Linked DNA regions of Homo sapiens: regions 1 and 3 are each linked to region 2. The links come from fine-mapping of genetic effects on gene expression. A gene starts in region 2. Each other region holds a variant in brackets. All regions are shown on one strand. Distances are from middle to middle. Region 1 overlaps KLHL6 (kelch like family member 6). Region 2 holds the start of KLHL6 (kelch like family member 6). Region 3 overlaps KLHL6 (kelch like family member 6).

Evidence for each region. PIP is the estimated chance that this variant, and not a neighbour inherited with it, causes the effect.
Region 1: its variant is the best candidate, but not a certain one, in a credible set for the expression of KLHL6 in whole blood (INTERVAL, PIP 0.77).
Region 3: its variant is the best candidate, but not a certain one, in a credible set for the expression of KLHL6 in blood mononuclear cells (TOPMed, PIP 0.63).

What each region holds. Positions count from the first base shown.
Region 1 is chr3:183,513,433-183,520,880 of GRCh38, forward strand. All of the region lies in intron 2 of KLHL6 (kelch like family member 6), which reads right to left. Among named protein-coding and RNA genes, the nearest start is that of KLHL6-AS1, 32 kb to the right of the region's middle. RefSeq lists enhancers at 2,898-3,177, 5,184-5,684. The variant A/G (reference allele first, on the strand shown) is at 3,456.
Region 2 is chr3:183,552,159-183,559,606 of GRCh38, forward strand. It overlaps KLHL6 (kelch like family member 6), which reads right to left and starts at 3,548. Exons shown (of 7, transcript NM_130446.4): 1 at 3,203-3,548. The coding sequence starts at 3,495. It overlaps KLHL6-AS1 (KLHL6 antisense RNA 1), which reads left to right. Exons shown (of 2, transcript NR_046687.1): 2 at 1-168. RefSeq lists a silencer at 408-577.
Region 3 is chr3:183,504,484-183,511,931 of GRCh38, forward strand. KLHL6 (kelch like family member 6) reads right to left here. Exons shown (of 7, transcript NM_130446.4): 3 at 3,576-4,025. Among named protein-coding and RNA genes, the nearest start is that of KLHL6-AS1, 41 kb to the right of the region's middle. RefSeq lists an enhancer at 3,345-4,544. The variant C/A (reference allele first, on the strand shown) is at 4,107.

The DNA of each region.
Region 1 (7,448 bases), 39 kb before region 2:
GACAAAGGCTTGGCAGATGCCAAACGTCATTTGCACACGTCACTGGGTAGCTCAGATGACCTGATCTGCCCTGACACAGGAAGGACTAGCCAACAAGATGCCGGTTCCTATTCCTGCTTGGTGGCTGTTGATGAGCAAAGAAGGAAACCACAGAGGAGAATCAAATCAAGTACTGAAGCTCACATTTGTTAGAAGAAGCATTGATCTTCACTCCACCTGGCAATTCATCCATCCAGCTACCTGTGTATGGACCGAATGTGAATTGAGCATGTATTTCTTTTTTTTTATTTTACTTTAAATTCTGGGACACTCGTGCAGAATGTGCAGGTTTGTTACATAGGTATACGTGTGCCATGGTTTGCTGCACCTATCAACCCGTCATCTAGGTTTTAAGCCCTGCATGCATTAGGTATTTGTCCTAATACTCTTTCTCCCCTTCCCCTCCACCACCCGACAGGCCCCAGTGTGTGATGTTCCCCTCCCCGTGTCCATGTGTTCTCATTGTTCAACTCCCACTTATGAGTGAGAACATGCGTTGTTTGGTTTTCTGTTCCTGTGTTAGTTTGCTGAGAATGATGGCTTCCAGCTTCATCCATGTCCCTGCAAAGGACATGAACTCATCCTTTTTTATGGCTGCGAGCATCTATTAATATTATGTAGGAGGCTCCCAACTAGTGCTGGGTGTACAGAGGTGAGCAGAGACAAAGCGCCTGCGCTCATTGAAGCCGACAGACCAGTGGAGGCAGCAGACGCTAACCAAATAATACAACACGGAGTGTGGAAGGACACTTGAGATAAATGCTATGGACCAGAGTCCAGGGACTCCATTGCCTGAAACCAAGGACAGTCCTACCCCCACCCCTTCAATCTTCCACAATCTGGCTGTCAGTCATCACCAGGAACCTCCCTTTCAGAACTCTAGCCACAATTGCACCCATCTCCTCACCTCCTCCAAGCAGTCCTGGAGCTGCCCTGTTGCAGTGCCTTTCCACGCTCCTGCCATCTCTCGGCCTGAGCTGCCTTTCCTCATCATCACCATCTGTTATGATCCTACGCGCCTCACCCAGACAAGCCCAACTCCAGAGCCCAACTTTTTAAGGAAAGACTCAGGATAGCTCACCCCATTTTCAACAGAGAAATCCCCCTGTAAGTTTACCTCAAGAAGAAGGAAGACATAAATATTATAGCCATGACTCTATCCACACAGGGCTGTTTTCTTTCTTTTTTTAAATTTAATTTAATTTTTTTTTTTTGAGATGGAGTCTCTCTCTTGTTGCCCAGGCTGGAGTACAGTGGCACGATCTCGGCTCATTGCATCTTCTGCCTCCCAGGTTCAAGTGATTCTCCTGCCTCAGCCTCCCAAGCAGCTGGGACTACAGGGGCACGCCACCACACCTGGCTAATTTTTTTGTATTTTAGTACAGATGGGGTTTCACCATGTTGGCCATTCTGGTCTCGAACTCCTAACCTCAAGTGATCTGCCCACCTCGGCCTCCCAAAGTGCTGGGATTACAGGCATGAGCCACCATGCCCGGCCAGGGCTATTTTCTTGATTCAGAGTTATTACATCTGGGATCAATGGATCGATCCAGAAAGTCTGTGAACCCCTACAATAGTATGTGAACATTTGCACATGTGGCATTTTTCTGGGAACTTAGTTGGCAGGGGACAGGTGAGTTACTCCCTGGTATCCTTCCACCTAAGTACAAAACCAACACAAGAGAGAGAGCTAAGTCAAAAGATCCAGAGAGGAAGAGAGCCAGAGTCTTGACTAGACGGTGCTTGGAACCCCACCTCTGGACATTTAAAATTCTGGGTCAATAATTGTTTAAGGGCTGGGCACAATGGCTTAAGCTTATAATCCCAGCACTTTGGGAGGCCAAGGTAGGAGAATCAATTGAGCCCAGGATTTCAAGACCAGCCTGAGCAACATAGTGAGACCTCGTCTTTACAAAAAATGTAAAAATTAGCCTGTTGTGGTGTTGCATGCCTATAGTCCCAGCTACTTGGGAAGCTGAGGAGGGAGGATTGCTTGAGCCTGGGAGTTCAAGTTTGCAGTGAGCCATGATCACACCACTGTACTCTAGCCTGGGTGACGGAGCAAGACTCTGTCTCTAAAAAACTAAAAATAAAAAGGAAAAGAAGAATTGTAGAGAAATCCTACCTATTCATGAAGTTCATTCTTAAAAGCTACTTCTTCCTTGACGGCTTCTCCTATTCCCCAACATGGAATCCCTCCCTCCTCTGTGCTCCACTGGGCACCTTGCTTTCCCCTTTTGTGGAGCACCCAGAGTACTAAGGTCAGTTGAGACAAGCATCTCAAAGCAGCTTCTAGGTCATACTTGGGTATTTATTTCTAGCAGCATCTAGCAGAAAGTCTGGAAAAAGAAGAGAAAGAGGGACAGAGGAAGGACATATTTATCACTTAGTATGCACCAAGATCTGTGCTAGACACATTCCCAGTCATTATTTCACTTAACAAATAAATTTTATTTTTTAACAAGTGTATTTTATTTAACAGGTAAAAAAGGGAAGGTGTTAGAATTAGCATTTGTATAAAGGAGCAAATAGAGAATTCAAAGAGCGATGCAAGTTCACACTGCTAGGAGGCAGTACAGTTGATGCTCCAGTCAGCATCGTGGTGCCTTTGTAACTTGTTGCATTGTTGAGCTAACAAAATGCCAGGAGAGTCTGAAGAGGCTTTATGAGGACAGAGGCAGGTGGGGGATCTCCAAGTTGCCTAAGTTCCTCCAAAATATACTTCAATAAACACTTTTAGTGTGAGGGGTGTAGGGCAACATCACATGATCCCAACCAATGGCTGGGAAACTGATGATGCGCAGGGCAATCATGGGAACCAGAAATGGGTTTCTTTTAAATATGCTTTTGCTTCTTCACATTCAAGATTATTCAAGACTTCAAGGTAAATTTTCTGTCTCGGCCTGTCCCGATGACACATGAACTTGTTTGTCAGAGCTGAGAGATGACAGATAATGGCAAAAGACAGCCAGCTTCCTGTTTGGGGGGACATGTGAGCAAAAGGTTGCAGCCAGCCACCTGACTCTCAAATGAGGAGACTAAAAATACAATCAAAGAAACCACTTGAGACGTGGCTGCAGTTCCCACAAGAAGTGTCTGCCTCCAAGAGAAAGCACTGCCTGTTCCTCATCTCCACTGCCCCTCCTCTGCTTCCCCATGACGTTCTCCAAAATCTGAGGTCCTAGGGGACTTCACCCATGTGACTCCATGTCTCCCTCAAGGTGCCTTCAAATCCACTTCAGAATCACTGAAGTCCTATTTTAGTCCACATCAGCAATTCTGTTGATCATGGTGTCCAAGTGGCTTTGGCGTTATTGCAAAGGGTCTATAAAGACATTGATATTCTTACCTTCAGCTCCGACAAATCAGCATGTGTGAAGGTGTGATGAGATTAATAACATTTAAATTTATTTCAA[A/G]GTATTTCTGAATTCATTGTAATTTTTGTTGTTGTTTTTTGAGACAGAGTCTCATGCTGTCACCCAGGCTGGAGTGCATGGTGTGATCTCAACTCAATGCAACCTTCACCTCCCGGGTTCAAGTGATTCTTGTGCCTCAGCCTCCCGAGTAGCTGGGATTACAGGCTCGCACCACCACACCCAGCTAATTTTTATATAATATTTTTAGTAGACACAGGGTTTTGCCATGTTGGCCAGGCTGGTCTCGAACTCCTGGCTTCAAGTGATCTGCCTGCCTTGGCTTCCCAAAGTGCTGGGATTATAGGTGTGAGCCACTGTGCCCAGACAATTGTAAATTTTTTGTCAAAACTTTTCTTCTCCAGCAATAGACACTAAAAGTAAAGTTCCTCTCCTGTGAGGTCTGTGTTGGTGTTTAAAAGGGGTCTTCATGCTAAAAATTTGTGAATTACCATTGATTCTAATCTTCCATCCTCACCTCTCTTCCCCTCTCCCGGGCGATGCTCCAGCTCCGTTCCCGTGGCAGTATGTCTCACAGTCCCCCAGGAGGGGCATTCTCTGCTCCCTCTAGCCACTCCTTTCAGTCCTTGCTCTAGACTTGGCTGAGAAACCTGCTGGTTCCTGGAAGCCTCATGGAGTGGGCAGAAAAGGAAGGAACTAAGACCTGCAAAAGACCTGCTCACTAAGGCAGGGCAGGTGTTGAGGGACTGAGGCAACTGTGGAAGTGGACTGGGGAAAAGACCAGCAGTGTGGCAAGCTTACAATTGTGTTCAATCAGCAAACAGCCCCTGAGTTTCCAGAGAAGACGGTGGTGGCCCCAGCAGGCTAGCAGGGCACAACAGGCAATACATGTGACCCACATATTCAAGGGGCAAGTGGCATGGCTGGGGCTCAGTGATTCAGCCCAGCAATGAGGTAAGGACCAGGGAGAAACACTGTTGTAAAGATTAAGTAGAATGATTGCATCTCGGACATGATTGATGCTCAGGGTGTGGTTTGTGTGTGTGTGCGTAGGGCACAGGAGCAGGAATGGAAGCAGAAGACAAGTGCTGAGAAGCAGCCCCGTGAACACAGGCAGCTGCAATAGGTGGGGTGGTGGGTAGAGAAGGCTGAAACAAGTCCACTTCCAGGTTCTCTCTGCCTGGAATACTTTTCTCCCAATCCTACTGCCACCATCCTATGAGGTCCAATTCAATGTCCCCTCCTTTCTGCCCTGGGCTCTACTTGGTTTGCCCAATGGCCTGGAGGCTCATTGAGAATCTTTCAGGGATAGTGGAGGGAAGTGGATATATGGAGTTGGAAGTTCTGGGTTTACTTGAAAATTCCACCCATAGCTCCACCACTTGATGAGCTGAACACTCTCTCTCTCTCAGCTAGTTTTCTCATCTGGAAAGTGCTAAGAACATAAAACTCACCTCGCAGGCTCACACTGATGGTTCTACCTAGCCTGCTCGCCCACAGAGACATGGTCAACATCAAATGGGATATGTAGGGGACAAAATTGCTACAAAAATGTGATCTGTACTCCACATTTTTAATCTTTATATTCTCCTGACAGCTTCTCACAAAACACCTTGCACTTAGAACATGCTTAGTAATTTGTGGTAGTTAGGGAGCAGTTAAAGTCAGAATCTGGTAGCGATATGGATTTTCATTACAATTAAAAACCCCACACCCCACTTCCTGTATTTTACAACCTATAGGCAGCAACCGAGCACAGGCTTACTCAGGGAAGGGGTGATAGAGCAGGCAAAAGAAGATAATTCTTGGCTTTTGAGTTTCTAAATAGACTTTCAGAACTTAAACTAGAGAAGTGGTTTTGAAAGAAATACCAGTTAGTGGTAAGAACCTACCCCTTCCAGCCTCAAAAGCCAGAGTCCTAAAGAGTCTGGGTACAAAGTTTATACCAAAACAGGAGACGTGAGAGAACGGATGACAAAGCAAGAGTCAGCTTTTCCCACCCTGGAGGCAATAAAGATTCCCAGGCAAGGAAGAGGGACAAGAGAGAGATTGTCTAACAACAGAGTGAGAAGCAGGGGTGGGTTCCCGAGATGATGCCTTGCTTCCCATCCCAGGCCAAATCTCCAGAGTGAGGGGGATGCTAAACGTCCCTTATAGGTTGTGAATCTGAGAACAAAAGAACATGTGCCTTGATCGCCGAGCTGAAAGCAGAAAAGCAGCAGTCCGGTATGGCAGCAGCAGATGAGATGAGAGTGTATTGTTTCCAGACAAAGGGGCCCTGTGGCAGTTGCTCCACGTCCCCTGTAGCTCTGGATTTGTAAAGGAGAGGGAATGGAAGTGTCTTTTGTCTTGAGAGGGGCACAGATGTAGCTGAGAGGATTGCCAGACCTGAAGAGGCTTTGCAAACAGGACAGAGAGAATGCAAAGTGACCTGCAAGGACCAATGACCAGAATCAGGTAGGACTGGGGACTTGTTGATGTCAGTGAGAAAGGAATGAAAAATCAGAGAGAGACTGATGGGAACACAGGTGCTCCAGTGGGTGCCACATGGACCAATAATGCAAATGACCATGGTAAGCCCAGGACAGATGCCTCTTTTTTCAATGCCCTGGCACTGTATAAATGTTTCCTGGAACTATATAAGCAACCCGAATCCTGAATTGATTAAACTTTCCTGTGTCACTACCTATGATTTCTGCCACTGGTAGAATGAGAGCTCAGGATAGAAATTAAGTTCAATGATAGAAAAATAACAGGTTTGGACGACCACAGTGCTCATGCCTGTAATTCCAGCACTTTGGGAGGCTGAGGCAGGAGGATTGCTTGAGGCAAGGAGTTCAAGACCAGCCTGGGCAACAGAGAGAGACTTTGTCTCTAAAATAATAATAATAATAATAATAAAAAGCCGGGCATAGTGGTGCATGGCTATATTCCCAGCTACTTGAAAGGCCAAGGTAGGAAAATCTCTTGAGCCTGGGAGTTCAAGGCTGCAGTGAGCTATGATTGTGCCACTGCACTCCAGCCTAGGTGACACACCAAAACCCTGTCTCAAAAAAAAAAAAAAAAAAAAAACAAGAAAACAGAAAAATAATAGGTTAAATCACATTCTTTTTGGCACACTTGAGTTTGTAGCCTAAGATTCAGACCCTCTGTACTAGTTAGGACTCAAAAAGAACAATATGAAATTCAAAAGCAGGCAAAACTAACCCATGGCAACAGATGCTAGAGCAGTAATTAGCGTGGGAAAGGACTGGCTAGGGAGGCTGTGAAGGAGAGTTCTGGGATGCCAGGGCTGTTGTCAATGTTGATCTGACTGGTGGTTGCATGGTGAAATACACATGTGAAAAATCATCAAGCTGGAAGCACTTTAAGAAGTGTACATTTTACTAAATGCAAGTTATACCTAAAAATAAAAGCATAAACAATTGAGATCAAACACCGAGAAATATAAAGACAAAAGAGTTGTTAAATGGCCAGCAGCAGACTCATTCTGGGGATGCTTGCGGGTGAAGGAGGCCAGCTCCTCCACACTTGTGGGTATTTCTCATCAGGTGGGACAAGAGACTGAGAAAAGAAATAAGACACAGAGACAAAGTATAGAGAGAGAACAGTGGGCCCAGGGGACCGGCGCTCAGCATACGGAGGACCCACGCCGACACTGGTCTCTGAGTTTCCTTAGTATTTATTGATCACTATCTTTACTATCTCGGTGAGGGGGATGTGGCAGGACTATAGGGTAATGGTGGGGAGAGGGTCAGCAGGAAAACGTGTGAGCAAAGGTCTCTGTGTCATAAATAAGTTTAAGGAAAGGTGCTGTGCCTTGATGTCATGTAGGCCAGATTTATGTTTGAGTTTACACAAACATCTCAGTGTAGTAAAGAGCAATATTGCCACCAGCATGTCTCACCTCCAGCCATAAGGCGGTTTTCTCCTATCTCAGTAAATAGAATGTGCGATCGGGTTTTACACCGAGACATTCCATTTCCAGGGACGAGCAGAAGACAGATGCCTTCCTCTTATCTCAACTGCAAAGAG
Region 2 (7,448 bases):
CTGCAGATGCATTTGACTCAGCAAACCCCCTTCAAGAAATGCATATGAAAAAAACTCATGTTTCAGGTTATTCATTACAACATTGTTTGTAATAGCAAAATGTGGATTAGAAATAGTCCAGATGTCTGTCCGTAGGGGACTGTTTAATAAACTATTGTCAGTCCCTTAGTGGAAAGTAATTATTTTCTCAGTGAATAAAGGAAAAAAATGACATAATTTTATAACCAGCTTCCAGGCCCTCCAAAACACAGAGAGCTGTGTTGAAAGCCTCACAGACTGGTCGGGCGCGGTGGCTCACGCCTGTAATCCCAGCACTTTGGGAGGCCGAGGCGGGTGGATCTCGAGGTCAGGAGATGGAGACCATCCTGGCTAACACAGTGAAACCCCGTCTCTACTAAAAATACAAAAAATTAGCCGGGCGTGGTGGCAGGTGCCTGTAGTCCCAGCTACTCAGGGGGCTGAGGCAGGAGAATGGCCTGAACCCTGGAGGCGGAGTTTGCAGTGAGCAGAGATTGTGCCACTGCACTCCAGCCTGGGCGACAGAGCGAGACTCCGTCTCAAAAAAAAAAAAAAAAAAAAAAAAAGAAAGCCTCTCAGACAGAGAGACTCTTTGACCTCCCTAAACCTGAGCATACGAAGAACCCCTTTCAAAACCTCAGACACAAAGCGAGAGAGTGTGTCAGATTTAACGTCAGTCCTAGGTCTAAATCCCAGCTTGGCTACTTTTTATTTGCTGTGACACTCTGGACTTTGGCTCACCGTCGGTAGGCTGGGGATAGGACTCCCTGCCTTGTCAGGTTGTTGTGAGGGTGGAGTGGACTAGAGTATGTGATACAGAAGCTACAGGGCCTGGCCCACAGTAAGCGCTCCACAAACAGGAGTTGATAGGAATAGTAGCACCGGAAGAAAGAATCCTGTCTCCAGGACAGTATTCATTGTAGAAGGAAAGTCACGTTGAAAATCCCAAGAGAAGAAGCAAAAGTCACTTCTCTGAAGAGAAGAATTGAAGGAATTTCCTCTCATGACCAGGCAGTTTTGGGAGAGGCTCTGTATACACAGTCAGATGCCTTCACCCTCATGTTCTCCAGCTTCTCATTGCCGTTGCCTCCTCTGACGACCGGCAGAGACTTTCCCTAAGTATCCTGGATCAGCAGGGCTGGAAGGACCCAAGCCCAAATTCCCATTTAGGATGAGAAACCCAAGAACCAGAGAAGACCAGTGATCAACTCGAGGGCACACAGCCAGCGGGCCTGGTCCACAGCCAGGCCAACCCGCTAACAAAACTGCTTCCAGGTATGCATTTTATGATAGCAAGGGATACAAAAGGATCAACCTAAATGTGCGTCCCCAGGGCATTGAGCTAACTTGACTTCACTCACTCCTGAGAGGGGCTGCAGTCAACGTGAAAGCACGTGATCAAGGTTGGTGGAGAAAGTAATGTGTTTATATCAACCCATTTTGATGGCTGTGTTTACACTTTATATTTTACACACTTCCCATGGAATGAAGTCCCAGACCTAGTGGCAGCTTGCATTGCAGTAACAAGGATTTCCAGAACATACCCAGTCCCTGCTCCAGCAATGACCAGATATATAATGCTGAGTTTTCATTTCCTCATCTGTGAAATATCAGCCACCTTCATCATGCTGTTACAAAAATAAAATCAGATAACTATGTCTGTCTGGCACACAGCAGCCACTGCTTCCCTCAAACCCAGATATCCCCTTGTCTTATCAACACAGGAGACCTAATGAGTCCCACAGCAACCTGCTGATCCTGCTCTATGAATTACAAAGAAACGTTTCCCCCCAAGCACCTCAAAAAAAAAAAAAAGAAAGAAAGAAAACGCTTTCCATAATACTTTCATAGGTTAATCGTTTTCAATTTCCTCAGCCAGAATCAAGAGTTAAGAAGAATCTCATTAAGAAGAATTCTAAGGGTATTTCTTTTCAAGTTCCCAAATACTTTCTTCATTATCCACATTGCCCTTGCAGGCTGGTTCCCCCATGTCCATGCTGATATGGAGAACACTGGATCAGGTGTATTCACTGGGTTCCCAGCGCTATAAAATTCCTACCCCAGGGACGTGCTCATGGGAAACACTCAATAAGTCATCCTTAGCTGAATCAAGCAGAATCAGAAAAAGAATTCCAAGAAAGATATATTGAGCATCTACTTACTATATGCTAGACACTGTGTAGGACCCTTTTCACGCTCTTGTTTAATTATGACAGCCCTGAAAGGTGATCATCATTGTGCTCACCTTACAGATGATGAAACAGACATTCAGAGCACTTTGTGACTTGCCTAAAGTTTCACTGTCAAGAAGGAACCAAGTCTCCTGACTTCAGGCCTTCCCACTATGAGATCACCAGTTTATCGTAACTAGAGGCCTCTCCCATCTAAAGCATCTTTGTAACTGCTTTCCCTTTCCCCACACTGCCTACACATAAAGAAGCCCCTAATTTGTAACAAGTCATTTGACAACTCCAGAAGAGGGGCCACATCCTTTTTCTCTATGTCTGTTGATTAACAAAGACAACATTATGTTTCCAACACCAGTCAGACCAAGGGGGAAAAAAGTCCCCATGACTTCAGTAATTTTCCATCCTTTGGAACAAGGAAATATACACAAAAGGTTTACTATAGAATGTAAGCATTGCTTTTAAATGATGCCAATCTCTCTTTTAATGTGGCCTAAATCCTAAAATTTAAAGTGTGATAAGCCGGGCGCAGCGTCTCACACCTGTAATGCCAGCACTTTGGGAGGCGGAGGCGGGTGGATCACCTGAGGTCGGGAGTTCAAGACCAACCTGACCAACATGGAGAAACCCCATCTCTATTGAAAATACAAAATTATCCGGGTGTTGTGGTGCATGCCTGCAAATCCCAGCTACTCGGGAGGCTGAGGCAGGAGAATCGCTTGAACCCAGGAGGCAGAGGTTGCGGTGAACCGAGATTGCGCCATTGCACTCCAGCCTGGGCAACAAAAGCAAAACTCCGTCTCAAAAATAAATAAATAAATAAATAATAAAATAAAGTGTGATAGTGTCCTTTCTTATATTTTAAGTAGACACACAAGCCTTAATATATATGTAAACCATAAATATCATGGCCAACTGTTCAAGATTGGGCTCTCACACTAACACACCTCTTCCTTGCAACTTGCACCCAATTTGACTCTGGTCCTAGGCATGCTGACCTGAAATAGTTGCTGGCTGCGGCAAGCACCACGCGGTGGCAGGAGAATTCCTGAATGTCCACACACAAGATGACATCTGTCAGAGCGTTTTCCATTCGCAGGGTTTCCAGGCCATTCTGAAGAATTAAGGAGAGTCCCGCGTCGTCAAATTTGACCTTTTCCCCATTTAAGATCTCGACCAAGTCTCCTGTTTTCTGGGAGGGCTCATCTGTAGAAGGTGCCAGGGGCCCTTCCAAACTCTTCTCGACCACATCACCCATGGTCCAGGCGCCCCTTTGTCCTGCCATCAACATCGAGACTGAAGGAGCGCCCAAGTGTCAGGCAGGCCCCATTGCAGGAGCTGAGCGGATTTCCTGTGCAGGGCCCTCCACTTATCACCAGCTGTCACACACACATAACAGGAAGTCTCGCACTTTCTCATCCTGTTACTACAAATGCCAGCAACTTCTATTCTTCTTCTTTCTGTGAGTAATCACAGGGTTAGAAATTACTTAGAATAGGTGTGTGGGAGGGGGTTCTGGAAGAGGAGTGTCCTCTCAGAGTCCACTGTGAGTGCTGTGTGTTTATTTTGGTGCATCTCCCACCTCATATCCGTGAGCAGGAAGCCTCCGGTGGTGGCTGTTACATTTGTACTCCTAATGCTATCAATAACCCAAGTCGTCAATGAGGGGATGGACAGGAGACAGTCTATAATCCTCCTGCTTCACATTTGTACTCCTAGTGGCTCAATAACCCAAGTCGTCAGCGAGGGGATGGACAGGAGACAGTCTATGATCCTCCCACTTCCTCCTCCCAGGAGTCTGAGACCCCACAATGATCCAACAACCGTGCTTTGTAAACCATGGAAACCCCACTTATCCCTGACATTCTCATTTCTGGCGGCACTGCAGATCGTCTATCTTCATCCTCCTCCCTACCCAGGGGAAAACAACGTCATGGCAAACTTTCATGTCTTCCCCCACCAAAAAAAATGTCTATTGTTTCGAATATGCTTTGGGGGCACAGAAGAAATGGTTTCCAAAACTCCATCAACAGCATCTTCTCAGAGGATGAGTCAGGGTGGGTCTACACCGAATTGCCATAGCACGTCTCAGATTAGCCCAACATCTACTGACCGTGCATCTAACGGTGGATCCTGAAGTATTTTCATTACCTCTGCATGTCTCAGTTAAGTAGTAATAACTGTCATTATTAAAATCCCATGATATCCTGGGGAAGTTATAGGAGCGTATCAGTTAGCGTTCTCTCACGCCCAACAGTAATGCTTTACCAGGTTGCTAGGTATTTCTTAGCCCAGCAAACTTGACATCTAAAATTAACCATTACAATTACAGTCATACCCAGCATAATGATATTTCAGTCGATGATGGACTCCAGAGAGACAGAACCAAAAGGATACCTAGAGAGGCATAGCAGAGGGAAATTATTAGGGGAATTGGCTCACGTGATTATGGAGACTGAGAAGTCGCATGACAGACTGCTGAGAGCTCAGTTCAAGTCCAAAGGCCTCAGAACCAGAGAAGATGGTATAACTCTCAGTCCAAAGCCAAAGGCCTGAGAATCCAGGGGGTGGGGAGACTGGTGTAAGTCCTGAAGTCCAAAGGCAGGGGATCCTGGAGTCCTGTTGTTCAAGGCAGGAGATGACTGTATCCCAGCCTCAGGAGATAGAGACATCGACCTTTCTTCTGTTTTTGTTTTCTCTGGGCCCCTGGCTGATTGGATGGTGCCCACCCACACTGAGAGTGTATCTTCTCTACCGAGTCCACTCAGACTCACTAATCTCTCCTGGAAACAACCTCACAGACACGCCCCATGGTAATGCTTTAACAGGTTGCTAGGTATTTCTTAGCCCAGTAAACTTGACATCTAAAATTAACGGTCACAAGTACAGTCATGCCCAGCACAATGACATTTCAATCGATGATGGACTGAATATACAATTGTGGTCCCAAAAGATTATAATGGAGCATATAAAGAAACCTGACGGCCGGGCGTGGTGGCTCATGCCTGTAATCCCAGCACTTTGGGAGACCAAGGCAGGGGGATCACAAGGTCAGGAGCTCAAGACCAGCCTGAGCAACATGGTGAAACCCCCATCTCTACTAAAAATACAAAAATTAGCCAGTCGCGGTGGCGTACACCTGTAATCCCAGCTACTTGGGAGGCTGAGGAAGGAGAATCGCTTGAACCCGGGAGGTGGAGGTTGCAGTGAGCTGAGATTGTGCCATTGCACTCCAGCCTGGGCAATAAGAGCGAAACTCTGCCTCAAAAAAAAAAAAAAAGTCATGGAAAAATAATGCCATTCACAATGGTAATAAAACATATGTAAATGCCTAGCAATAACAGCAACCAGCAACATAAAGAAAACTAACAAACTTTACTAAGAGTTTCGAAAGAAAACTTAAATAAATATACCAAGTTCCTTTATGGAAAGACTAAATATTATTAAAAGGACCAATTCTTTCCGAATACATTTATAGGTTTATTTTACTCTAATAAAAATTACAAGAAAATTTGGAGTTTAGGTTTGTTTGTTTGTTTGTTTTTGAGACGGAGTCTTACTCTGTTGCCCAGGCTAGAGTACAGTGGTGCGATCTCAGCTCACTGCGACCTCCGCTTCCCAGGTTCAAGCGATTCTCCTGCCTCAGCCTCCCAAGTAGCTGGGACTACACGCATGCACCACCACACCTGGCTAATTTTTTGTATCTTTAGTGGAGACAGGGTTTTGCCATGTTGGCCAGGCTGGTCTTGAACTGCTGGGCTCAAGCGATCCACCCGTCTCGGCCTCCCAAAGTGCTGGGACTACAGGCTCACACCACCGCACCTGCCCCAAGTTTAGGTTAAATGTAAATGAACAGTATCAAGATAGGTTCAAAGCACAGTGGGACTATCTGTAAAAGGATAAACATTAAGTCTAGACTTTACAGTGGACCCAAAGTCTTTTCTCCCTGGAAACTACAAAATTGAGATAGATGTGGAATGTTGTATTCAGAAGCCCCGTATCTGAGTTGGAAATTGAGACTGCTTCCCAGTGTCAAAGTGATTTAGATCTTCCAGACAACTATGAGATCTCATTCTTACTGACACAATGGCAAACAACAAAGTTTCTGATGGTCTGTGATTTTTAGAAAACAATTTTTCTCAGTAAGAATAAGTAGTCACCCACGAAGGGTATCCTTATGACACATTTATAATTGCAAGGAGTCACTTAAGGAAACGTTATTTCTTTTTAACGTTTCATCTGTGTCTGACTTCCTAGCCTGATGAATGGGAGGGCAGATTTTTTACTTTCCGATCTGACCTAATCTTTGAAGAAACGTTGTTTCTTTTTAATGTTTCATCTGTGTCTGACTTCCTAGCCTGATGAATGGGAGGGCAAATTTTTACTTTCTGATCTGACCTAATCTTTCCTTTCTCGCCCTTTTTAAGATTAATAGTCATGAATTTAAATTGAGACCTGGCAGGCGGCCAAGGTCAGCTTCCAAAAGTTATATGCTTGGGCCAGGTGTGGTGGCTCACGCCTGTAATCCCAGCACTTTGGGAGGCCAATGCAAGAAAATTGCTTGAGCCAAGAAGTTCCAGACCAGCCTGGGCAACATGACAAAACCCCATCTCTACAAAAAATATAAATAAAAAAATTAGTCATATATGGTGGCATGCATCTGTAGTCCCAGCTACTTGGAAGGCTGAGGCGGGAGGATTGCTTGAGCCCAGGAGGTGGAGGCTGCAGTTAGCCATGTTCTCACCACTGCATTCCAGCCTGGGCAACAGAGCGGAGACCTTGTCTCAACAAACAAACAAACAAAACAAAAAAGCAAAAAAAAGTCATATGTTAAGCTGTGTTCAATGGAACTATGGAGGGTCGGCTGGCGACGGTGGCTCACGCCTATAATCCCAGCACTTTGGGAGGCCGAGACGGGCAGATCACGAGGTCAGGAGATCGAGACCATCCTGGCTAACACGGTGAAACCCCATCTCTACTAAAAATACAAAAAATTAGGCGGGTGTAGTGGCGGGCGCCTATAGTCCCAGCTACTTGGGAGGCTGAGGCAGGAGAATGGTGTGAACCCAGGAGGCAGAGCTTGCAGTGAGGCGAGGTCGCGCCACTGTACTCCAGCCTGGGTGACAGAGTGAGACTCCGTCTCAAAAAAAAAAAAAAAAAAAACTATGGAGGGTCCAGTTAGTTAAACTGAATCTGCCCTTAGACTTCAGTGTCAAGGTGAAGCAGAGATGAAGCCAGGTGAAT
Region 3 (7,448 bases), 48 kb before region 2:
TCTGCCCCCAGCACCTCGGAAATACAAAAGGCAATAAAAATATTTCATTGCAGCAATTTTGCAGAAGACAGGGTAGGGACCTTTTATATCAGAGAAAATCTTTATCATCTGCATTTCAAGGACTTAGAAAATAGGAAGCAGAAACAAAAATAGCAAAAATATTGGAAGTATAGTTGATCAAGGCACAGTATATGTTTAAATTGTTTTAAAGTGCTATTTATTTTAACTTTTAGGTTCAGCATGTGCAGATTTGTTATATAGGTAAATTGTGTGTTGTGGGGGTTTGGTGTACAGATTATTTCATCATCCGTATGATGAAATCATACATAAGCATAGTACCTGATAGGTAGTTTTTCAGTCCTCACCTTCTTCTCATCCTCTACCCTCAAGTAGGCCCTGGTATCTTTTGTTCCCTTCTTTGTGTTCATGTGTACTCAATGTTTAGCTCTCACTTATAAGTGAAAACATGCATTATTTGGTTTTCTGTTCCTGTGTCAGTTCACTTAGGATAATGGCCTCCAGCTCCATCCATGTTGCTGCAAAAAACATGATTGCATTCTTTTCTATGGCTGTGTAGTATTCCATGGGAGACACTGAATAAATGCTGAACTGAGGGCAGTTACGGAGACTGAAACCTGTCTGCAATTATATGCAGGCTGTCTGCTAGACATCCAGCATAGAATAGGACCTATGTGGTTTCCTAGGCTCCCCCCATCAATCCACTCATCACCCTTCATTTGTTAAATGTCCCATCTTCTCTGACACACAGACTGTTTAGCAGTACCTGGGTAAGACACAGACTGTTTTTGCAGTACCTGGTGCCATATCTGGCAAGGAATTGGTGTTCAGGATTTATTTGCAAAAAATGAAGGCATAGCGTGCTTAAATACATGGGATGCTGTTTAAGTAGTTTTTAGGGGGAAATTTATAGCATGAAAGCCAATATTAGAAAGAAAGTCTCAAATCAGTGGCCTCCACTTCCACCTTAAGAAACTACAGAAATAAGTGCAAATTAAACCCAAACTAAGCAGAAAGAAAGAAAATAATGATCAGAGTGGAAATAGGTGAAATAGAAAACAGAAAAACAATAGAGAAAATCAAATGAAACTAGACATTAGTTATTTGAGAAAAATCAATAAAATTGATAAGCCTCTAACCAGATTGATCAGGAAAAAAAAAAAGGGCAGACACAAATTACCAATATCTGGAATGAGAGATGTGACAACACTATAGATTCTGCAGGTATTAACAAGATAATAAAGGAATGCTGTGAACAACTTTATGCCAATAAATTCAGCAACTTATATTAAATGAAAAAATTCTTTGAGACACAAACTATCAAAATTCATTCTAGAAGAAACAGAGATCCTAAATAGTCCTATATCTATTAAAGAGATATACATTATAGTTTAAAAACTTTCCACAAAGAAAACACCAGGCTCTGGTAAATTCTACTAAACATTTAAGGGTATGTTTGCAGAGTGAATGAATGAACAGTGGATCTAAGGACAACAAAAAAACTAGAAAAGAACACACAGAAAAAGGGAGAAACTCTAAAAGAACCTCAGACAGACAATTCCTGGGCCACGTTTGGCTAAGGCTTCTACCAATGGCCTAATGAAGAAAGCCTGGTAGCTAATCCCAGAACCACTGCATAGTGAGATATATGTATGGGTGTTCATGTGTACAAACTGTTAACAAACTGTCCCTATATCATTACTTCCTCTCCACTAAATTTGTTCTTGTCTTTATAAAGTTCTGAAGAAAAATCTTCTTCAGGAATTGTTAAGGAGAACCAGGTAGATCCAAATGACATGTTTATTCACCGTTCGTAGTACCCATTTAATCATTCAACAAGCATTTACTAATTACTCATTCACTATATAGCAGTCTCAGGACTCTCTTCTAAGATCTAGAGATGTAAAGTGCAATAAGACATATTTCCTACTATAACAAGCTCCCAGTCTAGAGATATTTACATATAATAAATTCAAATCATTGCCATGCAGCAGTTGGTGCTGTGATGGAGCAATGCACCAAGTGCTATGAGAACACGGAGAGTGGCTGGGTGTGGTGGCTCACACCTGTAACCCTAGCACTTTGGGAGGCTGAGATGAGAAGATCACTTAAGCTCAGGAGTTCAAGACCAGCCTGGGCAACATAGTGAGACCTTGTCTCTACAAAATATTTAAAAATTAGCCGGGTGTGGTAGCACATGCCTGTACTCCCAGCTACTTGGATGGCTGAGGTGGGAGGATCACTTAAGCCTGGGAGGTCGAGGCTGCAGTGAGCTATGATTGCACCACTGTACTCCAGCCTGGGCAACAGAGCAAGACCTCCTCTCAAAAATAAATAAATAAATAAATAAATAAATAAATAAATAAATAAATAAAAGGAGAAGTCTCTGGAGAAAGTGATGCTTGGACTGAGTTTTGAAGTAGGAGTAGAAGTCAGCTAGATGAAGAAGAGAAAAGCATTTGAACAACATTCAGATTGACCTGGAGGCAGAAAAAGCACATCCACTTTGGGGAACCACAAGCTGTGCATTAGGACTAGAGCAGAAGTGGGAGGTTGGAGAGGACACTAGAGAAGCAGGCAGGAGATTAATGATGCAAGACCAGGCTCTGGGAACGTAGGCAGGAAGTATGGGCTTTATTCTGAAAGTGATGGGGAGCCAATGAAGAAGGCAAGCCCAGGAGCAAGATGATCAGACTTGAGTTTCAGATCTTTCAGCTGGTGAATAAATTGGAGGGAGGCCAGACTTGGGGGAGGAAGATGAGTTTTGAGAAATTTCCAGAAATTCAGATGGTGAGAGTCTAAATCAAAGTGATGTCAGAGTATATACAAGAGACACAAGATTTCACCAGAGTGGGCAAGGAAGAGCAGCACCCCCATGGAATAGTGACTAGACAGGGCACGTTCTTGTTTTTTTTGTTTTTTGTTTGTTTTGTTTTGCTTTGCTTTTTGAGACAGAGTCTCCCTCTGTTGCCCAGGCTGGAGTGCAGTGGCGTGATCTCGGCTCACTACAACCTCTGCCTCCCGGGTTCAAGTGATCTTCCTGCCTCAGCCTCCCGAGTAGCTGAGACTACAGGTGCATGCCACCATGCCCACCTAATTTTTTTGTATTTTTAAGTAGAGACAGGGTTTCACCATGTTGGCCAGGATGGTCTGGATCTCTTGACCTCGTGATCCACCCGCCCTGGGCCTCCCAAACTGCTGGGATTACAGGTGTGAGCCACCAGGCCCGGCCCAGGGCACATTCTTGTTTGTGCGTGCAGTGTGACCCCCAACCTCCCACCCTTCCACAACTGGGAAGAGGAAGCACGGGCCAGGCATGGTGCTGGGTGATTTCTACATCTCACCTAACGCGCTCAGTAACTGTCTGAACACGTGGGATCGGCCTCATAGATCAGGAATCAGGGCTTCTGGAACTGACCGACTCAGCAATGAACAGGGCAGTGTTTTCTCCTTAATGCCCTAAGGATTTTTGAATCCGCTTTGCTTGCATCTCTGTGAGCCCCTAGCTAACTCCTTACTTCGCTGGTTAAATATAGCACCTCTTATCTTCTACTCACCTCATTGCCAGAAAGGTGGTACATCCTGGCTTCCTGGAGCAGCGGGAAGACCTCTGGGCACTGCCTGATGAGAGGATCTGCTTCCACCGTCTCCACAAAGTACCACGGGTCCAGAAGCGGTAAGCGCACGTTCTCGAGGACATAGGGGAGTAAGCAGAGTCGTTCTGATGGCTTGTGCCGGACCCAGCTCATCACGGTCTCAAACACCTGAGCCTCCTCGGTCACGTAAAGGTCATCACTCTTCAAGATGTGGTGCAGAGTGTCCACGGGCAGGTCAAGAAACTCCTCAGAGTTCAGAATCTGCACAAAGTTTTGAATGATGTAACTCTGAACCTGCTTCTTTAGACTGTCCAGCGAGTGTGTGTCAGCCAGCCTCAGTATTCCAACGCAGTTTTCTGGGTTCAAGGCTTCAGTGAGGAAGCTGGCACAGGCATCCACCATCCGCAGGAACTGATGAAATAGAAAGGGTGGAAAGGAGGCCAGAAAATGGTGAGTCCACAAGGAGGTTTATCAGTGAGTTATGTGTATTAG[C/A]CAAAAATTGGAAACAACCTAAATGTCCAACAGTACAGGATGAGCTAAATACATATAATTCATTCATACAGTAGACTTAAAACAATGAGATACTTACTGGACGAGCTAAATACATATAATTCATTCATACAGTCGACAAAACAATGAGATACTTACGGGAGGAGCTAAATACATATAATTCATTCATACAGTCGACTTAAAACAATGAGACACTTACGGGACTAGCTAAATACATATAATTCATTCATACAGTCGATAGCTCTGTAGATACTTAAAACACATGTTGTAGAAAATATTAAATGAAATAGAAAATGTTCATAATGTATTGAGTTTTAAAATCTGTTCATTGGATCTGATTAAGCCTCTACATTTACTCAGCAATTTACAGGAAATACAGGGAAAGAGGAACCTGCTAAAGACGTCATGGGAACATGATCAGCAAAATCCAGATTGTGGAAAACTCTACTGAACAACTTGTTCAGTTTCTTCAACAAATACATTACAAGGGGATAAAAGAGAGAGAGAAGGAGAGGGAGAACCTAAAGATAAACAGAGATTTAAGACACATTGACCAATTGCAAAGTATGGATCTTATTTGGATTCCTGATTTAAACAATATATATTTTTTAAAGTTGGAGAAATGTTTACAATGACTAATATTTGGTGCTAATGAAACAATTATGATTCATTTTAGGTGCCATAATGGTTTCATGTTTATGTTGAAGAAGAATCCTTATTTTTTAGAGCTATAAGTGAAATATTTGCAGATAAAATGAGAAAAGCACGTCACAAATCATATGTACATTGTGACCTTATTTTTATAAAGAAAACATACACAGAATAAAGTCATAGAAAGAAGATGAAAGGATGTAGGTCAAAATATTAATGGTTGTTATCTCTTTGGGTTATCAGGTATCTTAAGGCAAATTCTGCTGCAGCAGCAAACAACCCTCACGTCTCAGGGGCTTACAATAAATGTTCCTCTTACCCACTATGTGTTCTTCACGGGGCTCTTCATTCCAGGGGCCAGGAAGATGGAAAGCCCTTACCTGAGACATGCTGGTCCCATGACAGAAGGGGAAAAAGATGGCAGAACCACACAGAGGCTTTTAAAGCTTCTGCTCAGAGGGGGCGCATGCTATATCCATTTACACAAAACCGTCCAGAGTAAGTCACATGGCAAAATTTGTCATCAAGGGAACCATAGTTCTCCCACAGAAACAGGTCTCATGGGATGGACAGGGAATATACTATATAAATAATAGAAGGTATGACACTCTAAGAAGACTATGAGAATTTTTCTGTTTTTGTTTATTTATATGTTTTATTTATTTATATATCCTTTAAAATGAATACGTACCGCTTTTGTCATTAAAAAATCAATTTGTAAAATTATTGATTGGCTCTCAGGTCCCACTTTTAAGTTATCACCATCCTCATAAAAATTCAAGTCCCTTGTGCTTGTAGGGCACTTTACAGATGACAAAGCACTGTTATATCCATTATATTTTGTAATATCCATTTTACAGATGACATGTCTCAAATGCATTGGTTCATTCTTATTTGTTGTTCTCTGGAGCTTAGCTTTGAACAATTTCAACCTCCTAGCTCCCTTCCCCGTCTACTGGACTCCTTATAGGGTCAAGTTCTTGGTGCCCATGGGTTGATCGATTAATGGGGGGAGAGGAAAGGGGAGGCTGAGGGGGCAAGACCTGGTGGGGGTGGGGGAGGCCTTCTGAAGGCAGGTCCTGGTGAGAGTAGGGACAGGACAGACCTGACTGGGGAGGGTTGGCAGGAGCTGTGGGGAGTGGGGCTATCGAGCCTGAAGGTTGATAGTGGGGCAGGACTGGTTCTAAGAGTGGACCAAGGTGACCTAGGCTCTGGACTTTACTCCAGAGCATTCCAGGGAACACATCCCTGACTTTTTGGATCAACCTCTATTGCAAAATATTATCTTTCTGTGTCAGATCACATAGGATTGTCAGTTTAAAAAGCATTTTTTAGGCCGGGCGCGGTGGCTCACGCCTGTAATCCCAGCACTTTGGGAGGCCGAGGCATGCAGATCACCTGAGATCAGGAGTTGGAGACCAGCCTGACCAACATGGAGATACCCCGTCTCTACTAAAAATACAAAATTAGTCAGGCGTGGTGGCACATGCCTGTAATCCCAGCTACTCAGGAGGCTGCAGCAGGAGAATGCTTGAACCTGGGAGGCGGAGGTTGCGGTTAGCTGATATCGTGTCATTGCACTCTAGCCCGGGCAACAAGAGCAAAACTCCATCTCAAAATAAATAAATAAATAAATAAATAAAGCATTTCTCCGAGGGTCAATGCTGAAGGGGGCCAGCCCCTCTACACCTGTGGGTATTTCTCGTCAGGTGGGACGAGAGACTGAGAAAAGAAATAAGACACAGAGGCAAAGTACAGAGAAAGAACAGTGGGCCCAGGGGACCAGCGCTCAGCATACGGAGGACCCTCACCGGCACCAGTCTCTGAGTTCCCTCAGTATTTATTGATTACTATTTTCACTATCTCAATAAGAGGAATGCAGTAGGAGAGCAGGGTGATAGTGGGGAGAAGGTCAGCAAGAAAACATGTGAGCAAAGGAATCTGTGTCACAAATAAGTTCAAGGGGAGGTACTATGCCTGGACGTGCACGTAGGCCAGATTTTTGCTTCTCTCCACCCAAACATCTCAGTGGAATAAAGAATAATAAAGCAGCATTGCTGCCAACATGTCTCGCCTCCCGCCACAGGGCGGTTTTTCTCCTATCTCAGAACTGAACAAATGTACAATCGGGTTTTATACTGAGACATTCAGTTCCCAGGGGCAGGCAGGAGACAGTGGCCTTCCTCTATCTCAACTGCAAGGGACTTTCCTCTTTTACTAATCCTCCTCAGCACAGACCCTTCACGGGTGTCGGGCTGGGGGATGGTCAGGTCTTTCCCATCCCACGAGGCCATATTTCAGACTATCACATGGGGAAAGACCTTGGACAATACCCGGCTTTCCAGGGCAGAGGTCCCTGCGGCTTTCTGCAGTGCATTGTGCCCCTGGTTTATTGAGACTGGAGAATGGCAATGACTTTTACCGAGCATACTGCCTGTAAACATTTTGTTAACAAGGCACATCCTGCACAGCCCTAGATCCCTTAAACCTTGATTCCATACAACACATGTTTTTGTGAGCTTAAGGTTGGGGCAAAGAGGTTGGGGCAGTTACAGATTAACAGCATCTCAGGGCAGAGCAATTTTTCAGGGTACAGGTCAAAATGGAGTTTCTTATGTCTTCCCTTTCTACATAGACACAGTAACAGTCTGATCTCTCTTTTCCCTACACAAT